Regions from separate parts of the Homo sapiens genome. Here region 2 is linked to region 1. The links come from fine-mapping of genetic effects on gene expression. A gene starts in region 1. The other region holds a variant in brackets. All regions are shown on one strand. Distances are between the middles of the regions.

What was found.
Region 2: its variant is fine-mapped to the expression of TMEM177 in whole blood (TOPMed, PIP above 0.99).

What each region holds. Positions count from the first base shown.
Region 1 is chr2:119,674,779-119,684,253 of GRCh38, reverse strand. TMEM177 (transmembrane protein 177) reads right to left here and starts at 5,053. Exons shown (of 2, transcript NM_030577.3): 1 at 4,978-5,053; 2 at 2,136-3,422. The coding sequence starts at 3,400. The coding sequence ends at 2,465. RefSeq lists a silencer at 4,977-5,206.
Region 2 is chr2:119,552,612-119,562,086 of GRCh38, reverse strand. It overlaps CFAP221 (cilia and flagella associated protein 221), which reads right to left. Exons shown (of 24, transcript NM_001271049.2): 4 at 2,312-2,398; 5 at 2,061-2,159; 6 at 1-73. Among named protein-coding and RNA genes, the nearest start is that of CFAP221, 13 kb to the right of the region's middle. The variant CA/A (reference allele first, on the strand shown) is at 4,328.

The DNA of each region.
Region 1 (9,475 bases):
GACCGCAGCCCAGATCAAGGACACAGCGAACACGAAAGCTGTGTGGGCAGGAGGGGAGAGCAGTTCAGGAACCAAACTGCAGTGAGGCTAGGATCCAGAGCAAGGGAAAGTGGGACACGGATGGGCAGGAGATGCGGTTTTCGCCAGAAAGCATGGGGATGTCTCTAAAGGGCTTTAGGCAGGAGAGTCACCCAGTCAAACCTGCACTTCCAGGAGCTGGGAGAACTGGGAGAAGAGTCAGGAGGCCCAGTGGAGATGAAGAAAAGGGGATGGAGCCGAGAGCTACTGGGAGGGAAAGCACCAAGGCTGGGTGCTGGGTGAGTCATGCAGTGGGAGGGTGGGAGGGGGAAGAAGGGACACGGAGCTCAGCCAACCTGCCAGGGGGGCTCTCAGTGGGAGGGCCTGAGGTGGCCTGAGCCGGGCTGTGGAGGACTGGAGGATGCGAACAGTGCAGCAAGGCGGAGCAATGCACGCGCACACACACGCACACACATACACACGGCTGGAGGATGTGTGCGCCAAGGTTGGAGGGTAGCATGTAAGGCTTGTGTGAGGACTGGGAACAGCCTGTGAGTGGAGACAAGGTCTGTGACTTGGAGCAGAGGGAGCTGAGTAAGCAGCCTTTTCTCCCCATCGTGAGGCTGCCTTCGCTAATGGTTCGGGCAGATCAGCAGGAATGCCTGAAACCATCATGGCTCCTGCAGTACTGAGAGCAGATGGGTTGGGGGTGGGAGTGGTGAGAAAGTGGAGCCCATCAAATCCAGGCCCCAGACCGTACTGCTCAGGAATGAGGTGGCCTCACATGGCCTTGTGGCCCTTTAAGTACAGCAGCAGCAGGTGGGTGACACCCCAAGGGGCCCCATGAAATGGTGTGTCCCTGAGTGAAGACTGGTTCACCCAGCCACTGCCTCATCTATCCACCTATGTATTCCAAGCCCGTGCCCAGTGCCGTCCTAGGTACCAGGGCCTGGGGAATGAGCAAGGATGTGCTGCCCTCAGGAACTCAGCCTGTTCAGGTCCAGTGTGAGGACCCGTGAGCTGGCCCAGCACACTGAGCTCCAGCCCACAGTGAGGGGCCCAGCAGGGAGGTGTGCCATTCCCACTGCATTCTGCAGCCCCACTGGCTCACTCTCCTCTCCAGGTCTACTGCCAGGACCTGCCACCACTGTGTTCAAATACTTTCCCAGGGAAAACCTCATCTCCAACTAAAAGATGTCATGAAGCCAAATTGGGTCTGGCTCCCTGATCACAACTCTCCTCACCTTGCCCTGCTGTGGTCCTGTCCAAGGATCTAACCCAGGGGCCCGGCTCCATCCACCACCGGAGGGCTCAAGGGAAATAAGCAGGGCAGGGCTGCAGTCTCCCCTGGGTCCTGAGTGGGACCAGGCCTAACCCACTGCCCACCTCCACCCCTCTGCTCTCCTTGCTGACCCCTACGAGCCAAGCTTACCCCCACCTTGCTGCCTCTCCTCTCCAAGCCCTGGCCACGCTGTGCCTGGGGAGGCTGACAGCTCTGGATGGCGCCAGTGGGCTCCCTCCCTGCAGGGCCTCGGTCTTACAATGGTTTGTTCCTTCCTCTACATTTGAGTGAAGCTCTTGCCAAGTCTCCCATGCCACAGATCTCGGAGTTCTGGAACACCTCCCCTCCCCTCAGGTCCAGGGACTCTCCTGGCACGTGCTGGTCTCCTTCTCCCTGAGTGTGCCATCTGCATCCACGGGACCTTGACTGACACAACACTCTTAAGGCCCCCTCACCTTAAAACAGCCTCTCAGGACCACACTAACTTCTCATCTTGGGCTCTCTAGTCTTTTAACCTCTAACAGAGTGGAGGAAAATTGGGATTTGACCACCACTTAAATTGAGGGGTGGTTCTTCACTGTAGGAAAGTGTTCACATAACTGCTAGTACCCTGGTGTTGAGGTGTGCCCTGACTCCCACAGCCTGGTGGCACTCAAGACCAAGAAGGAGGCTGGGCGAGGTGGCTCACGCCTGTAATTCCAGCACTTTGAGAGCCTGAGGAGGGTGGATCACTTGAGCCCAGGAGTTTGAGGCTGCAGTGAGCTATGGTCACCACTGCAGTCCATCCCGGGCAACAGAGTGAGATGCTCTCAAAAAAAAAAAAAAAACGACCAAGAAGGAGGGATGTCTGTTTATTTACAGTGCACCCTTTGTGCCAGGCCCTTATGTTCATGACCTTACCCAACTCTACAATCTTGCAAGGCGGTTTACATCATCTCCACTTTACAGTTCAAGAAACAAAGGCTCAGATTCATAGCCCCTGAATAGTCCCTCATAGTCCCTGAGTTCATAAGTAGTGGTTATAGTACAATCTAAGCTATTTAATTCCAAAGCCAGTGATTTTTCTGGCCGTGAGCTATAGGTCCAAAGGCTCCAACAGGGCCCTCCAGACTCAATGGCAGGGTGGTGTCTGCACAAGCTGGAAGTGTCCTTGTGATGAGCCCATCAGGAGCGGCCCGGATTGAGCATCCCCCTCCACATCTGCAGCACAGAGTCCCGGCGGGTGGTGTAGGGTAAATGTTTGATTCGGAACAAGTGTCTGGGGACGATGTTCCCGCTGGGTGTATACAGCTTCTCCCCGTCTTTGCCCAAGAGACTGCGCAGGGCCAGGTTGCCCGACAGAAGCTTCTCATAGAACTCCACTCCACCACAGGCATAGGCTGCAGAGAGGGAGGCCGTGCGGCGGTCCAGCCAGGACTCCACGGCATGAGTGAGAGAATCCTGGGAGAAGGCGTAGGCCACAAAGCCTGCCACTGCTGCCACCAAGCTGAAGGCAGCCCGTAAATTCATGGGGCCTGCATGGAGCCCCAGGGTGTACTTGGCACCCACGCCCAGTGCCCAGGTCCCTGCCAGGCAAGCTGGGGCCAGCAGGGCGTGCACGGCAGTGGTACTGCTTTCCAGGTACACCACTTCCCTGGCCAAGGCGAACTTCTGGGCTTCACGGGACAAGGTCAGGGAAGCTCTCAGCCGGGCGCCTGCTGGGCTCCGCCAGTCCACTGTATGCCCATGTATGACCACGGGATGGTTAGTGTTGATCACTAGGTCTCCCAAGAAACTGGCAGGGATGCCCACCACAGCCCCAGCAGGGAGTCTTGGGAAGCCTGCACTCACAGGTTGGAAGGTGAAGGTGGTGAAGGGCTTGTAGCAATGGCCTGAAGGAACACCTATGTCCTGTAGCACCTCTTGGAAGAGGCTCTGCAGCTGTGGAGGGAGCGGAGCTGGCTGGCCCTGAGGCCAGTACTGGTAGAGCCATTGGACCACGGGATCCGGGAAGAGGTGGTACGAGATTGGAACTCCAAACAGGCCTGCACAGGAACCCACCAAGAGGCCTGTCCTGTGTCTCTGCACAAATGCTGCGGTCCGCCACAGGGGACCTGCCATGAGTGTAGTCACTGCGGACAATCTGGGCCAAGAAAAAGAGAAGTCAGCCAGTTTCCCTGGGTCAGCCTGCAGACTGAACATCCTCCAGGGTCCACACCACCTTTTTAAACCAAAGTAACACAGCATAGTGGTGAAGAGTGTGGGCTCTAGAGCCAGAGTGCCTGTGTTCAAATCCCAGCTCCGTCTCTGTGCGTCAATTTCCCCATGTGCCAAACAGGTGTGTCGTAATGGCCCACCTCTAGGGTGGCGGTGATGAGCACATGAATAAACATACATAAAACATTTAGTGTCTGGCACAGCAGCAGATATTCCTTATAATAATGGCTGTAATGACTTTTATTCCCATCGCTGGGCACGGCACTCCAACTGCCTCATTCCACTCATCCCATGGTAAAGCCCTATGATTACTAATTTATAAGGAAAAACGTGTTCAATTTATTGAGTGCTTACTATATGCTAGACTCAGTTCTGAGCACTCTTACCGATTGAACCCTCACAACCCCATGACCTAATTACTACAGCTAACCCTATTTCAAAGCTGTGAAAACTTAAATGGCCAAAATCCTAAGCTAGTGAAGTGACAGTGTTATGGGCTGCACTGTGTCTCCTCCTCCTCCCCAGTTCATATATTTAAGTCCTAACCCCCAGTACCTCAGACTGTGGCTGTATTTGGAGACAGGGTCTTTAAGGAGATAATTAAGATAAAATGAGGCCATCAGTATGGATCCTAATCCAATTTGACTGGTGTACTTATAAGAAGAGATTAGGATGCAAACAGGCACAGCAGGAAGATCATGTGAGGATCCAGGGAAAAGGCTACCACCTACAAGCCAAGAAGGGAGGTCTCAGAAGACACCAACCCTGTTAACACCCTGGTCTTGAACTTCCAGCCTCCATAACTCCCAGAGGACAAATTTCTGCTGGTTGGGCCACCCAGTCTCCGGTACTTCGGCATGGCAGCTCTAGCAAGCTAACACAGGCATAGTCAGGTGTCCACAGCAAACTTTTTGTTTTAGAAAACTTGTTATGCCAAATTACAAGCATATACCAAAGTAGACAAAATAGTACATCCATCAACTTCAATCCCATCAACTCATGGCCAATCTTGTTTGATTTCTCTTTCCACCACACTTCCGTCCAACTGGTTTATTTTGAAACATCCCCGGGCATCCTATCACTTCATCCGTGAATACGTCAGTAAAAATTCACAATTATTTCACTTTGATTGAAACTTACTGTATTCCTGTCCGTGAAAAGTGCTTAATGAGCAACGAATGAGTTGCCGCAAACAAAAACGCAGGGTACCGCTTGGCCTATCTTAATCAAGAACTCCTATAAGAATCATTATCATTCGGGCTTTTTTTTTTTCCCAATGCGGAAAGTGAGGCTAAGAAAGGAAAGGTCTGGACCAAAGTCCAACGTCCCTAGGGCCATCGCGCTGCGGGGTGGGCCTAGAACACAGTACCATGCAGCCCGCCGGTGGCTGGGGGAGGAGGGGCTGCAGGAGCCCCGCAGAGGGGTCCTCGCTACGCTTCCACTCTGGGCCCCTAGGCTACTCCGCAGTCTGAACGCGTTACCGGGTCGCATCAGGCCGGAGAAGGGTCCCTCCCGCTCGTCCGTGCGCTCACCTCCGCCGCCGCTCGGAACGCCTACATGTGCGCGCGGCAGGGCGGCCGCAAAGCACGCCGGCCGGGGATCTGGGGGCGGGGACTTCGGGAGGCGGAGCTCGCCGGCCCCGGATCTTGGGATGGGGACTTCAGGGGGCGGAGCTCGCCGGCCGGAGATCTCGGGGCGAGGATTTCAGGGAGGGGAGCTCGCTCGACGGGTCTGGGGGCGGGACTCTTGGGGGTGTGGCTGGGGGGGCCTCAAGGGGATGTCCGTGGGGGGCTCCGGCCGCCGCAGAGGCTCCTTCTCTAACTGTGCACCTTGGGGTGGGTCCGCTAGCACTTCCTCCTCTGCGTTGAAATGCGTCTTTGATTAATACAAAAATTAGCTGGGCGTGGTGGCGCACGCCTGTAGTCCCCAGCTGCTGGGGAGGCTGAGGCAGGAGAATCGCTTGAACCTGGGAGGCAGAGGTTGCAGTGAGCCGAGAATACGCCACTGCACTCCAACCTGGGCGACAGAGCGAGACTCCGTCACACACACACACACACACACACACCCCGGTGTCTTTGATCATGCCACACACACACACACACACACCCCGGTGTCTTTGATCATGCCACACACACACACACACACACACATACCCTGGTGTCTTTGATCATGACACACACACACACACACACCCACCCCGGTGTCTTTGATCATCACACACACACACACACACACACACACACATCCCGGTGTCTTTGATCATGCCGTTGAACCCCCGAAGGAACGGCAGCCCCGCGTGGGTCACCAGGCGGCCTATGGCAGGGCCCCCATCAGAACCCATGCCCATCTGACTGGCCGGCCCGTGTACTTCTCCGTCTGGAAGCGCTCACCCTTGGCGGGGAGCTCTGAGCTTTATGTTTATTACCATGTTCGCTGCCCCCCAAGCTCCTCCCAGGTGCTTCACACTGTACAGTCCACAGAGCAGCGTGCCATCTGTCATTTCTCCTTTCCAGCTGCTCTGTGAGGTAGATGAGGGATCATCTAATCTGTGCACCAAATCCAGCTCTCCACCTGCTTTTGTAAATAAAGTTTTCTTGGAACACAGCCATGCCCAATCCTTTACAGAGGGTGAAAACAGACTGCCTAGGGTTAAAGCCGGGCTCCACCCCTTACTAGCTGTGTGATAAAATGAGTTGGTGTATATGTAACCTGTGCCTCACGGTTTGTGCCGCCTAGCCATTAGCTATTATTATTAAAGTCTGTTCTGTTTCTGAGCCCCCCCCCCCAATTTTGGCTGCTCAGTTGTTTGTATGTAAATAGTGCAATGTGACCTCAGCCAAAGCCAGAATGTGGGACATTCTACAGGGCAAATGACGTGGTTTATCCAACAAATCAATGGCATAAACAGGGAAGGAGGGGGACTCAAAAGAAAAGAGACTTGAGAGTCATTGCAGTTAAATGCAATATGTGACTTTTATTGGGATCCTGAACCAAATAAACTAACTGTAAAAAAGACACCTTGGGCTGGGCGCGGTGGCTTACGCCTGTAATCCTGGCACTTTGGGAGGCCAAGGAGGGCAGATCACCTGAGGTCAGGAGTTCAAGACCAGCCTGGCCAACATGGTGAAACTCCGTCTCTACTAAAATACAAAAATTAGCCAGGCATGGTGGCACACGCCTATAATCCTAGCTATTCAGGAGGCTGAGACGGGAGAATCGCTAAAACCTGGGAGATGGTGGTTGCAGTAAGCCGAGATTGTGCCACTGCACTCCAGCCTGGGTGGCTAAGTGAGACTCTGTCTCAAACAAACAAAGGAACAAACAAACAAACAAAAGGCATCTTGGAGAAATTTGAATTTGGATTTGAATATTAGATGATATTAATGAATTATTGCTTATTTCATCAGATGGGATGATGACATGGAGTTTATATAAACCAAAAAATTCTTACTAGAGATGCATACTGAAGTGTTTACAGGTGAAATGACACAATGTCTACTATTTGATTCAAAATATTCCAACGAAACCAAATCCAAACAACAACAACAACAAAAAAACAGGGGCACAGATGAAACAACATTGACAAAGTGTTAGTTATTGTGAAGCTGCATGACAGGTTCAGGGATCTTCATCATACCATGCTCTACTTTTGTGTGTGTTTGGAAATTTCCATAATAAAAAGTTTAAAAAAATTTTTTAAAGTAGGCTGGCCAGTTGGACTCCATCAAAATGAAAAACTTTTGTGCATGAAAAATACTATCAAGAAAAGTGGAAAGACAATCCACAATAGGAGAAAATATTTACAAATCATAGATCTGATAAGGGTGTAGTATCCAGAATATATAAAGAACTCTTAGCAACTCAACAAGCCAATTAATAAATGGGCAAATGACTTGAGTAGACATTTCTCAAAAAATATATACAAATATATGCCAAAAAGCATATAAAAATGTGCTCACTAGTATCAGTCACTAGGGCTGATCACAGAGCGGCTAGGGAAATGCAAATCACCACAATGAGATATTATTCACAACCACTGGATTTCTATAAGGAAAAAGAAAACCTAGAAAATAATATATGTTGGAGAGGATGTGGAGAAACTGAAACCCTCATACATTGCTGGTGGGAATGTAAAATGGTGCAGCCACTGTAGAAAACAGTTTAGAGCTTCCTCAAAAAGTTAACCTTAAGCTAAGCTAGGCTCAGTGGCTTGTGCCTGTAGTCCCAGCTACTTAGAAGGCCGAGGTGGATTGCTTGAGGCCAAGAGTTCGAGGCCAGCCTGGGGAACATAGTGAGACCCTGTTTTCTAAAAAAAAATAGTAATTTTTTTAAAAAGTTAAACTTAGAATTACCATATGAATCAGCTATCCACTCCTAGAAATATACCCAAAATAATTGAAAACAGGCACTCAAACAAATACTTGTACCTAAATGTTCATAGCAATGCTATTTACACTAGTGAAAATGTAGAAATCAAAATGTTCATCAACTGATGAATGGATAAACAAATTATGGCATAGTTCATGCAACGGAATATTAGTTAGTCATAAAAAAGAATAAATACTGAGCCATGCTACAACATGGATGACCTTACAAACATTATGCTAAGTGAAAGACGCTAGACACAAAAGGACAAAGACTGTATCATTCCATTTATATAAAATGTCCGGAATAGGCAAATCCACTGAGACAGAGAGCAGGTTAGTGGTTGCTAAGGGATGAGGGAGGGGGTAAATGGGAGTGACTGCTAACAGGTACGGGGCTTCTTTTTGCAGTGATGAAATGTTTGTGTATTAGATAGTAGTGATGGTTGCACAACATGGTGAATAGACTAAAACCCGTAAATTTTTACCCTTTACAATGGTTAAAATGGTAAATTTTAAGTAATGTGCATTTAATCTCAATTTAAAAAATGCATATATATGTAGGTTGGCCAATCCTACCGCAGAGCTGATAGAACATTTATCAACCGTTCAACTGAAGCACCTGGGAGAGTTATTTTTCAGGAGTCAGGAGTGAGAACCCATGGGGTAGGCAGGTGTTTTGCCTGAAGCTGGGCTTCCCAGTCAGAGTGTGTGGTCATCTGCATCCCGTGCTTGCAGGTACAACCATCTCCAACAGCTCCTCCTTCATCGCTTTCTGAATATCTGAAATGCTCCCACTTATGTGTTCTTACACTTATTCATTCAGCTCCTACCCTGTGCCAAGTGATGGGGGCAAAACACCGATAAGAAAAAGTCACAGTCCTCCGTAGCTCCCTGATCATTAAAGCAGACACATGAACCCCTGGGAGCAAAGAGTCCTCCCCTCTTCCCTCTGGTAGGGCCACAAAGGAGGTAACGGCCACTTCTCCACAGGGTGGTTCCCGGGTATCTGAACTCTAGAAGACTCTTTGGAATTTATGGGTGGTCAAAGGGGCAGGTTGGAGTGCTTTTCCTGTAGAGACTGGTGAGGTGAGAGTTGGTCCAATCCCAGCTCTCAGCCAGATCCTCTCCTGAGTGCAGAAGTGGATGGCATTGAGAAAGAAGCAGCCACAACAAAACGGGCAAGGCCCCAGAGGGAAGCACCTTGGGTGACTTTAGGTTTAGGAGGCAGGCTCTCAGAGCTGAAGCTTATATGGTTCCAAAACCTCCTTACAACCCTCTAGGTGAGGCCAGAGTGTTGCAAATGTCCAGCCCCGTCAGCACAGGCTGCCCGGCTGCCCGGCTGCCAGCTGGGTGGGAGGCAGCACTGAGCTGCTGCTGTTTGTCGGGATTCAGGAATGGCTGTGACAGATCTCTTGTCCCTTCTCCTCCTCTGCTGGGATTCTCCTTTTCAGGAATGTCCTACTCTAGGTCTGGGGCTGGCTGTGGTCTGCTCCTGCTGTGGAGCCCGTCTTCCCCCTGCCAGGTGGCCCTGGCTGGGGACAACACCCAGGAGTGCACTGCGGGGGTTGTGAATTGGGCCCACAATTGTGCCCATAAATGGTGCTCCTGGGCT
Region 2 (9,475 bases), 120 kb after region 1:
TTATAAATGAAGGAAAGTCTAGTGAGTTCATGACTGGATAGGCATGAATAGGAACAAGCAAAGTGTCATCTCCCTAAAATTAACCAGAAAAAGTCAAGTTTAACATTCTGAAGACTACAACTTTTAGACAAACTTGTAGATGCTTTATTTCTTATCTTGTTTCCATCGTTAAAAAATATTTCCTTAAGAAACTTCAGCGCTTAACTACAACATTAGACATACTGAGTTTTCTTAGCCATAAACAAAGCGTAGAAAATTTTAAGTACTCTTTATTGAAATGATGTTCGCTATTATCCAAGGAAGCTAAAGATAATGACGCCTCATAGAGATATGAAGACAGTAATCTATCTGCTTCTATTTCAGAAAATTATAAAGAAACACAGTCTTTAGTGGCCCAAGAAAAAGAGAAACCAGCACAGAATCATCTGATCCAGACAGCACAGAATAGAAAACAATGTATTGGCAAGAGGGCACAGAAACTTGCTTCTTGTCTCATATGACGTTAACCTTCAGAAGGACTTTTAACCTCTCCAGGCATAGTTTCTTTCTTTGCAAAATGGAGATAATCATATTTTTCCTTAAAGGCATTTTTAAGAATTAAAGCAGATGATGGCATTAAAATGTCAAAAGTACTGCATAAAAGTGAGGTATTATTATTAGCATTATTTGGTAGTAACAGGAAATGTGTCCTGGCATTTTATACAATGCCTGTTCTAGGCATTCTTCTTCTGTTCAGCACAGAATATTCCATCTGAAAGCAATATTCTGGTTTTGTTTTTATTTTTTTATTTTTTTTTGAGATGGAGTCTCGCTTTGTTGCCCAGGCTGGAGTGCAGTGGTGCAACCTTGGCTCACCGCAACCTCCACCTCCTGAGTTCAAGTGATTCTCCTGCCTCAGCCTCCCGAGTAGCTGGGACTACAGGTGCATGCCACTAGGCCTGGCTAATTTTTTGTATTTTTAGTAGAGATGGGGTTTCACCATGTTGGCCAGGCTAGTCTCAAACTCCTGACCTCAGGTGATCCACCCACCTCGGCCTCCCAAAGTGCAGGGATTACACACATGAGCCATCGCGCCTGGCCATTTTTTTTTTAATTGAAACTCCAAAAAAATAATAATGGTCTATCATATTCTTAAGGAAATGTGCTTCTTGATCTAAAATACTATTGTGGGTATGTTGGGTCTAAGATTCTTTCCCTCCCCCTATGGAAATGCATCTCTAATATGACGAAGTGAGTCAGAGACAACACTATCAATTTATAAAAGTTAACTTTGCAAATTTTTATAACTTTTTTGGAAAGAAAAAGTGAAATGCTTTCACGGCAAGTCACCTTATTGTGCAGATTGTAGGAAATTTGCCTGAAAAGAAAAAAAGTAGAAACTCATTTGTTACTAATGTATACTCTTCTGTTTTGGTTTTGAAACATCAATAATTTAGCTAACCTAATGGCTTCTCAAGCTGAAGACTGGGGTCTGGACTATAGAGCAAAGGGAGGGGCAGAGGGGACAGTTTTAAGAGAAGGAATGACGGCAGCTCTGGCTGGAGGCCAAAGGATGAATTAGGTGACCTAGGAAAGGCTCAGAAGAACTCAAACAGTCCCCACCTCCCGGAACCACCCCCATCCCCTGCACCAGGGCTGCCTCTGCAGACATTCCCAGGCATAGGCCAGTGGCTGGTGTTTATAATCATAACTTGGATGGTTGTAAATTTTTCAACCTAGCATTTAAGGGAGTATGTTGAAGTTATTTGAAAAGGCTTCGGCAACTGCCAGCACCACATGATAGATGAAGCTTTAGGCACAGGGCAGTGGGAAGCCTGCAGCAAACCGCGTCTCCTGACTCTGTCCAGGTCCTCTGCAGCCTAACACTTTCCCATCTTGGGCCATGTCACTGGGCAACAAGCTTTGCACGCCAGTCACACTGGTGACCTGGGGAACACCCGGTACTGGGCCAAGAAAGCTCTCAGTGGTCATTCCACCTCTCTTTCTGCCACCATTGAGAATGTAAGTTTTAACCCACCATCAAAAAAAAAAAAAAAAAAAAGCAATTTTAAGAGACCTACCTTACAGTGAACACGGATGCAGTCATAATAGTATCGCCACTCATCTGGAGAAAATGTAACGGTGACCGTGAGGGACAAGCCAGGGACCAGGTGGTGTTCCTGGAAGACAGGTGGCATCTTGTTGGGACAAGCCCCGGACTGCACAGAGAGCAGCACCGGGGGTGACAACACACCACACACCCCCCACCCCACACAGGCCTGAGACGCAGACAACCACACCGTGGGAGAACAGGTAAACCAATGACGCTTACCTTTCTTACATAATTGATCTCAAAGTATTTGGTTTGCGGGGGTAAAATATGAACACGTGTGTCTTCATTGGAAACATTGACCAGATGCTGGGAGAGAAAAAGAAGTATTTAGAGGAAATACACGGCTTTATTTGCATACTCACCTCATTTATGTAGACTTCATCTGTTCCTAAAAGAATTTGAGGAGATATCCTATATTTAACTTTTCAAAATATTTGAAATACATCATACACCATTTAAAAAATAATAAACATAACACACACCATTTCAAGAATTATAAAACGTGCCCCATGTCCCCACTTTCCCCCTTAGGAACAATACCTGCAGTACCCTCCCACCCCAGCCCGAGACTTAGCATCCTTTAGGGCCCCCTCCCCACAGTCCTGAATGTTACTGCAAGTGCTTTTTGTTTAATTCAATTTAGTCCTGCGATTCAATCGAGCTAAGTCAGGCACCAATTCCTAAAGGTTCTCTAATTACATGCCACTGGTTTAGGGGCCCAGAGGACACTGAGACCATCAGAAAGTCAGGAAAAAGAACGTGACTAAGACAGCCTCCAATCCACGCCTGGGCAGATGAAAAGGAAGTTGAGGGTGGGAATTCTCTGACAGTGACAGGAGAAGGCCATCCCTGTGAGGCAGGATCATCTGGTGGATATGTCAGCTGGGTCTCTGAGGAAAGGTGTTTTTCCTTCCTTCGTTTGAAAGGGACACAAGAATTTTGAATTCTGGGGATCTGGGCTTTGCCTGGGCCAGGAGAAGGTTAAGAGACCTTTGGTTTCTGAAGTCTAGGCCAGACGCTGGGTCTGTCCCAGGGGCTTGGAAGTCCCATTGCTTGAGGACTGACATTCTTCAATGCCCTAAATTAGACTTTAGACATTCTCTCCTGATGAGGGTACACTGTGTTTGCCTGTGTTTTTTTGTTGTTGTTGTTGGTTTTTTGTTTTTTATTTTTGAGACAGGGTCTTTCTGTGTTGCTCGGGCTGCAGTGCAGTGGCACAATCATAGCTCACTGAAGCCTCGAACTCCTGCGTTCAAGCAAACCTCCTGCATTTGCTCCTGAGTAGCTGGGATTATAGGCATGCACCACCATGCCCAGCTAATTTTTATTTTTTATTTTTTGTAGAGATGGGGTCTCATTATGTTGTCCAGGCTGGTCTCGAACTCCTGGGCTCAAAGGGTCTTCTCACGTTGGCCTCTGAAAGTGCTGGGATTACAGGTGTAAGCCACTGTGTCTGGTCATGCATGTGTTTAAAAAGTTCTTATTTATTACATGTGAACATTCTTAAAGCACTACAATTTTTGTGACCCTGTTTTGGTGTATCTTCCCTTTCTTACGAAACTTGTTAAAAGCCCAAACAAAAAGTTTCCCAGGCTTCTCTTGGCCTCCAAGGGGCCCTGCACATGGGCAGTCTTGGTGAAGATATGAGTTCCCAGGGGCCAGACCCATGAGAGCAGCCCTTTTGAGAGAGACTGGGAGGAGAGGTTTGCTGAGTCCATCACACTCAGAGTCCTGGGATGACAGGGCCCGCCTGAGGATGGAGAGGGGCCACTCAGCCCCAGGCCTGGAATCTTAACAAAGAGCTTTGTCCCCATGCTTCTCATTGGGGGAGGGCTGTGAAGTCCTCAAGCTGGAGTCCAGGAAGAGCTGGAAGTGGAAGTGGTTCTATCATCTGTTATTACTTAAAAATAATTCAGTAAGAACACTGCAACAAACAAGGGTGCATAAGCTGGTTTTAATATGTACCCTGGGAGTGGTTAAGCTTAGAGGAAATCAGCAATCTGCACTCTAGGGGTGCTTTTTTTTTTTTTTTTTTTGAGACGGAGTCTTGCTCTGTTGCCCAGGCTGGAGTGCAGTGGCGCGATCTTCGCTCACTGCAGCCTCTGCCTCCCAGGTTCAAGTGATTCTCCTGGCCCAGCTAACTTTTGTATTTTTAGTAGAGACAGATGGGGTTTCACCATGTTGGTCAGGCTGGTCTCGAACTCCTGACCTCATGATCCACCCACCTCGGACTCC[CA/A]AAGTGCTGGGATTACAGGCGTAAGCCACCGTGCCTGGCTTCTAGGAGTGCTTTGTGAGCACTGAAGGATCCTAACCCAGCATCTACACTCCACAGGCAGCCATCAGAGTGTTTCAATTATGCCACCTAAATCCATTCTGGAGAGTCTTCTATAGTAGCAGAAAGGATACTCAGAATCTATGGATTAACTAGAAATATTATCCAGGCATTTCCACTCTCAAACAAAAGGGGTATGACAATCTGGTGAGTGCAAAAGACCAATATCCTTTAGAATGACATTCAAGGGCCCCAGACTCCCTTAGTCCCCCATGCTCTGCACTTTACTAAAGTATTCGGTCAGCCAGTTGTCATACCTGCGGCCATCAAAGCCTCCCCACTAGGAACTGCAGCTGGGACTTCGTGAGATTACAAACACAATGATCTTTTTGCCTGCTTGCTAGTAAGTGTTCATATGTGTTGCAGAGTGTCTTCTCAGACCTGTTCGCTGCAGCCGACCACCTGTAGCAAGGCTGCTGAGGAGTGGACCTATGACTCCCACATGCTGTCAGGGTCAGACTCTCAATATCTGCCTGACAATTAGAAATAAGCTCACTGGCTTAAATCAGTTTCCAACAAGCGACATTATGGGCAGAAGACCAGAACAGAGATCTGTCCTCAAAGCTGCTGGGTTCGCTCCATTTTTCCAGTATTCCTGAATGGTCCCAAGGAAGACAGGAACCTAAACTCCCAAGACTGGAGATCCAGCCAGCACCTATGGACAAATAAAGAGACTTGACCTTTCCTCCAACATGAGTATGTCACAGCAAATCCAAATCTACCCACTACCCATTTGAACATGAAGGGGGCATGCTAGAATTCATGACATAATATCTATATTGTCAAGTGAGTAAAAAATTTGCAATAGGAGGGCTGGGCACAGTGGCTCACACCTGTAATCCCAGCACTTTGGGAGGTCAAGGCAGGTGGATCACCTGAGGTCAGGAGTTTGAGACCAGTCTGGCCAACATGGTAAAACTCCATCTCTACTAATAATACAAAAATAGCTGGGCGTGGTGGTGGGAGCCTGTAATCCCAGCTACTCGGGAGGCTGAGGCAGGAGAATCGCTTGAACTGGGAGGTGGAGGTTGCAGTGAGCTGAGATCGCGCCATTGCACTCCAACCTGGGTGACAAGAGTGAAACTCTGTCTCAAAAAAAAAAAAAAGAAAAAAAATTTAGCAATAAGAAAATACTAGATGATTTTCTTAGAGAATAAAACAACATAGATCCAATTTGTGATAATAAAAGATACATTATTTGACTATAGTTTCCCATGTCCACCTTTAAAAGATTCTTGAACTGGAATTGTTCATTTGGATCAACAGAGAAATAAGAAACAACAGACTCAAACAAAACTGTAGATATTTAGTTAATAGGAGCTCAGAAACAGGAAGAAAACGTTCAGCTTCTGCTTAAGATCTGAAGTGAAATGGAGACTAGTGGAGACTGAAGGCCTGGACAGCTGGGTGCAGTGGCTCACACCTGTAGTCCCAGCTACTTGGGAGGCGGAGGTGGGAGGATCACTTGAGCCCAGGAGTTTGAGGCAGCAGTGAGCTGTGATCCACGTGGTGGATGGCAGAGAAGGCAGTCAGCAGACATAGTGATGGTGCGGGCAGGGATATTTCAACCAAATAATGTCTAAGACAATTCCAGGGGACATCGTGCCAATGAGCTTTTTCAGTGAACTTAAAACAACAACAAAACATGACAAATTATAGCAAAAATGAACAGCTTATTTTCTACACTTTAGAAAACAAAGTCAACATCCAAAAGCCTGACTTCCAAAATAGGAAGATTTTATTAATTTTGCAGTTCTCAATTTTTGGTTGCAAATACTCATTGCTTCCCATAATCATCCATGTTCTTTGTCCTCTCAAAGATTTGTCTGAGCCCAGGAAGACTGCAGAGGCCATTTTGTGCAATGTCCTTATTTCATGAAGACACAGTGACCTGGTACTGTCCATGCCACAGGGTGAGTGCAAGACCTGGACCTAGAACCTGGTCTCCAGCTCTGGGCTAGGGCTCTTTCCACTACATCCTACCGTCTCATGGCTCAGCACATCTCAGTGCCCAGCCTGCATTTCCTGTCTTTTTTTTAATACTTTATCAGCAGATCAGCTTTATTTTTAGATCGTTATAAATAATATCCCTTCAGGGATAAAATGGCAGTCCTGCCTTTCCATTTATAACTAAAACTGGGGAAAATAATAATCATTCAAAGGAAAAACAAACCTTGGGAAAATGAATAAAGTGCTTAGAAAGTGTATGTTAAATTAATATGAAGAGTTTATTTGAAAACATAACAAAACACAAGTAATCCAGCGTTACCCTTAGGCAACATAAAATTGCCTAAAATCCTACCCTGTGTTTCAATTTTTGGTCAGTAGAACTCCTAGTCCCTCCGGAATCTCTGTTCCCCTGGGAGCTGACCTTCTGCTGGCCTGGGGGTCCCTGTTTCCTTGGTGCTGTCTCCACAGGGCACCATATTTACTCCAAAGTGAAATTCAGCCCCTTCTAGAGTTTTTCAGAACCGCTTCCCACTCCACAAAAACCCCACAAAAACCATCAACCACACATAAAATAGTCATAAGTTTAACAGCCATTACTCAGGATTTGTAGGAATTTCCCCAAGAGGGCTCACAGCTCTCTTCACCCCCAATCCCATGCTGCTTCAGGCTCCCTTCTGTGTCTCCTTGGGGGAGTCTATTCTCCTCCTTCTAGAGGGAATGGCAGAACCTGCCCTCCAGTGAAGTCTTGGCTTGGAGTGGGTCCCGACCCTTCAAACACAACCTTCAAACACAACACTTTGGCCTGCAAGTTCAGTGACACAGCTTCTCAAAGAAGGTTCATACTTAACATAAGGGATCCAAGGACAAATTCAAGCAGCCTTATAAGTTCTTTAAAGCGTTTTATTTTAAAATGCATCTTGGTCATGCATTTACTCTAAAATTTTGCTCTATATTGCATTTCTCCAAAATGCAAGAGTAAAATTGATGCTCTAGAAAGACGTACTATGTTTATACTGTGGCTTCAATTCCCCCAACCCCACACACTGAGAAGCCAATGCGATTCATGGCCCTGATTTTGAGATGCAAGATCTTCAGGGTCTCTAAGGCTGTAATAGAATAGGTCTCTAATGTAAACTGATGTAAAAACAAATATTATTTGACAAAGCCAGAAGAAACTGTTCATTTATTTAAGGTAAGACTTTTTAGGCTAACAATTTTGTTTTGGGCTGGCAATAGCAACACTGGTTGTCTTAAAGGAAAATTGATGGATTATTTACTTAATAATTTCCAGGACCAAATCACTCCACAAAGGTAAAAACAAATTTAAGGGGTCTTGGTTTTGAGAAAACCAGGGACCATTATTTCAAATTTTAAAGTAAATTGAAACACTGATTTCAACATGAATGCAAGCAAAATGTTTCAGATCCTTTAGCCAGATCTGGATTGATCTGAAATGTTAATGAACAATTTATTTGTGGTTTTAAATACACATTCAGTCATTCCATTCTTGGGCAATTTGCATAGTTTGCTGTAGCAAAACCAAGATAAAAGCAGTTGTTGGATTTTCCACCTTGTTTGGCAAGAATTTCAAGGTAACTGCCTTAAGCTTCCGCTTCACTTTGCCGTGGAAACAGGGGGCTGGCTCTCCCAAGATTTCCGAGAATGTTATTAAGATGAAATCACTTTACTTTTATCTATTTGTTTGATTTAATGTCTGATCGAAGCAGTATGACCACCTAGACTTTACATTGTATTTACTTGGAATTAATGAGCCTCTGCCACTCTTCTAATAACCTCACAACTCTTACATTAAAGTGAGTTCCACATCCTTCACTCACAAGGGCTTGTTGGGTGCCTTCTGCATGTCAGGCACTGCACAAGGTGCTGGGGAAGCAGCAATATGAAAGACAGACATGGTCTCCATTCTGCAGCAGAATGACGCCGAGCTGAGGCTTCATATCTTTTTCAATAACTAAACCATACTCCCTTGCTCCCCACGAATTCTCAGTGGGGGTGAAATTACCCACAAGGGAAGGAAGTGAAAACTGATTCTTGGGAGGACAAAGGAATCTTAGACATTGTGATGGCTACAACCTTCCAAAGCTCAATCCTACCTGACAAAATCTTATTCCTTAGTATTTAGTTTCTCTCATTCATGTCTCCCTAAGGGATGCTAATGAAAGAAAATGTTGAGAACCACATTATCCTTTAAAATTCCACTAAGTTGATCTTCCTCAAATGCATCATAACCCTGCTCAAAAATACTTCCTTAACTTCCTGCTGCTTTCTGAATCACATGCACGTTCCTTACGTTGATATTCTTGTCCCAACCCACATGTCTCACCTTCTCCATTACCCGCTCCAAAGCCCTACCATCCAGGCAAACCAGCCTCCAAATACGCCGTTTGTTGGCTCAACTCAAGCCCCTGCATGTCTTTCTCTGGGCCCCAAATCCCTTCTCCCCACTTCCTACTTGGCTTTTGGGCTACCCCCAATGGCCTCTCCTCCACACGCCTCCAACACCCTCCTACAGAGGTGAAACGGTGCCTTTTCTCCACAGAACATTTTCTTTGGACTTCCTCATGCCACCTTGCTTGCCTGGTCTCATGTCTGAGTTATTTGGTGGTTTTGAAACACTTTCTGCTACTTGGAAAACTCCTTGATTTTATTTATCTTAGCATTTCCCATAATGCTTCAACACTTTGTTTGGCATGTAATGGGGACTCTCACCAACTGTGGGTGAAATTAAACAGAAGAAAATCCTTAACTCTATTAGAAACAAGGTAACATCAACCAGAGAGTACAACTTCGTTAGAGATAACAAAATAATATGCTGTTTCTTATCTATTTATTTATTTCTTATTAAAGAAAGAAATATTTCTCTTTATTTCTTATTAAAGAAATATTTCTATTTATTTCTTATTAAAGAAAGAAATATTTCTATTTATTTCTTATTAAAGAAATATTTCTATTTATTTCTTATTAAAGAAAGAAATATTTCTATTTATTTCTTATTAAAGAAAGAAATATTTCTATTTATTTCTTATTAAAGAAAGAAATATTTCTATTTATTTCTTATTAAAGAAAGAAATATTTCTATT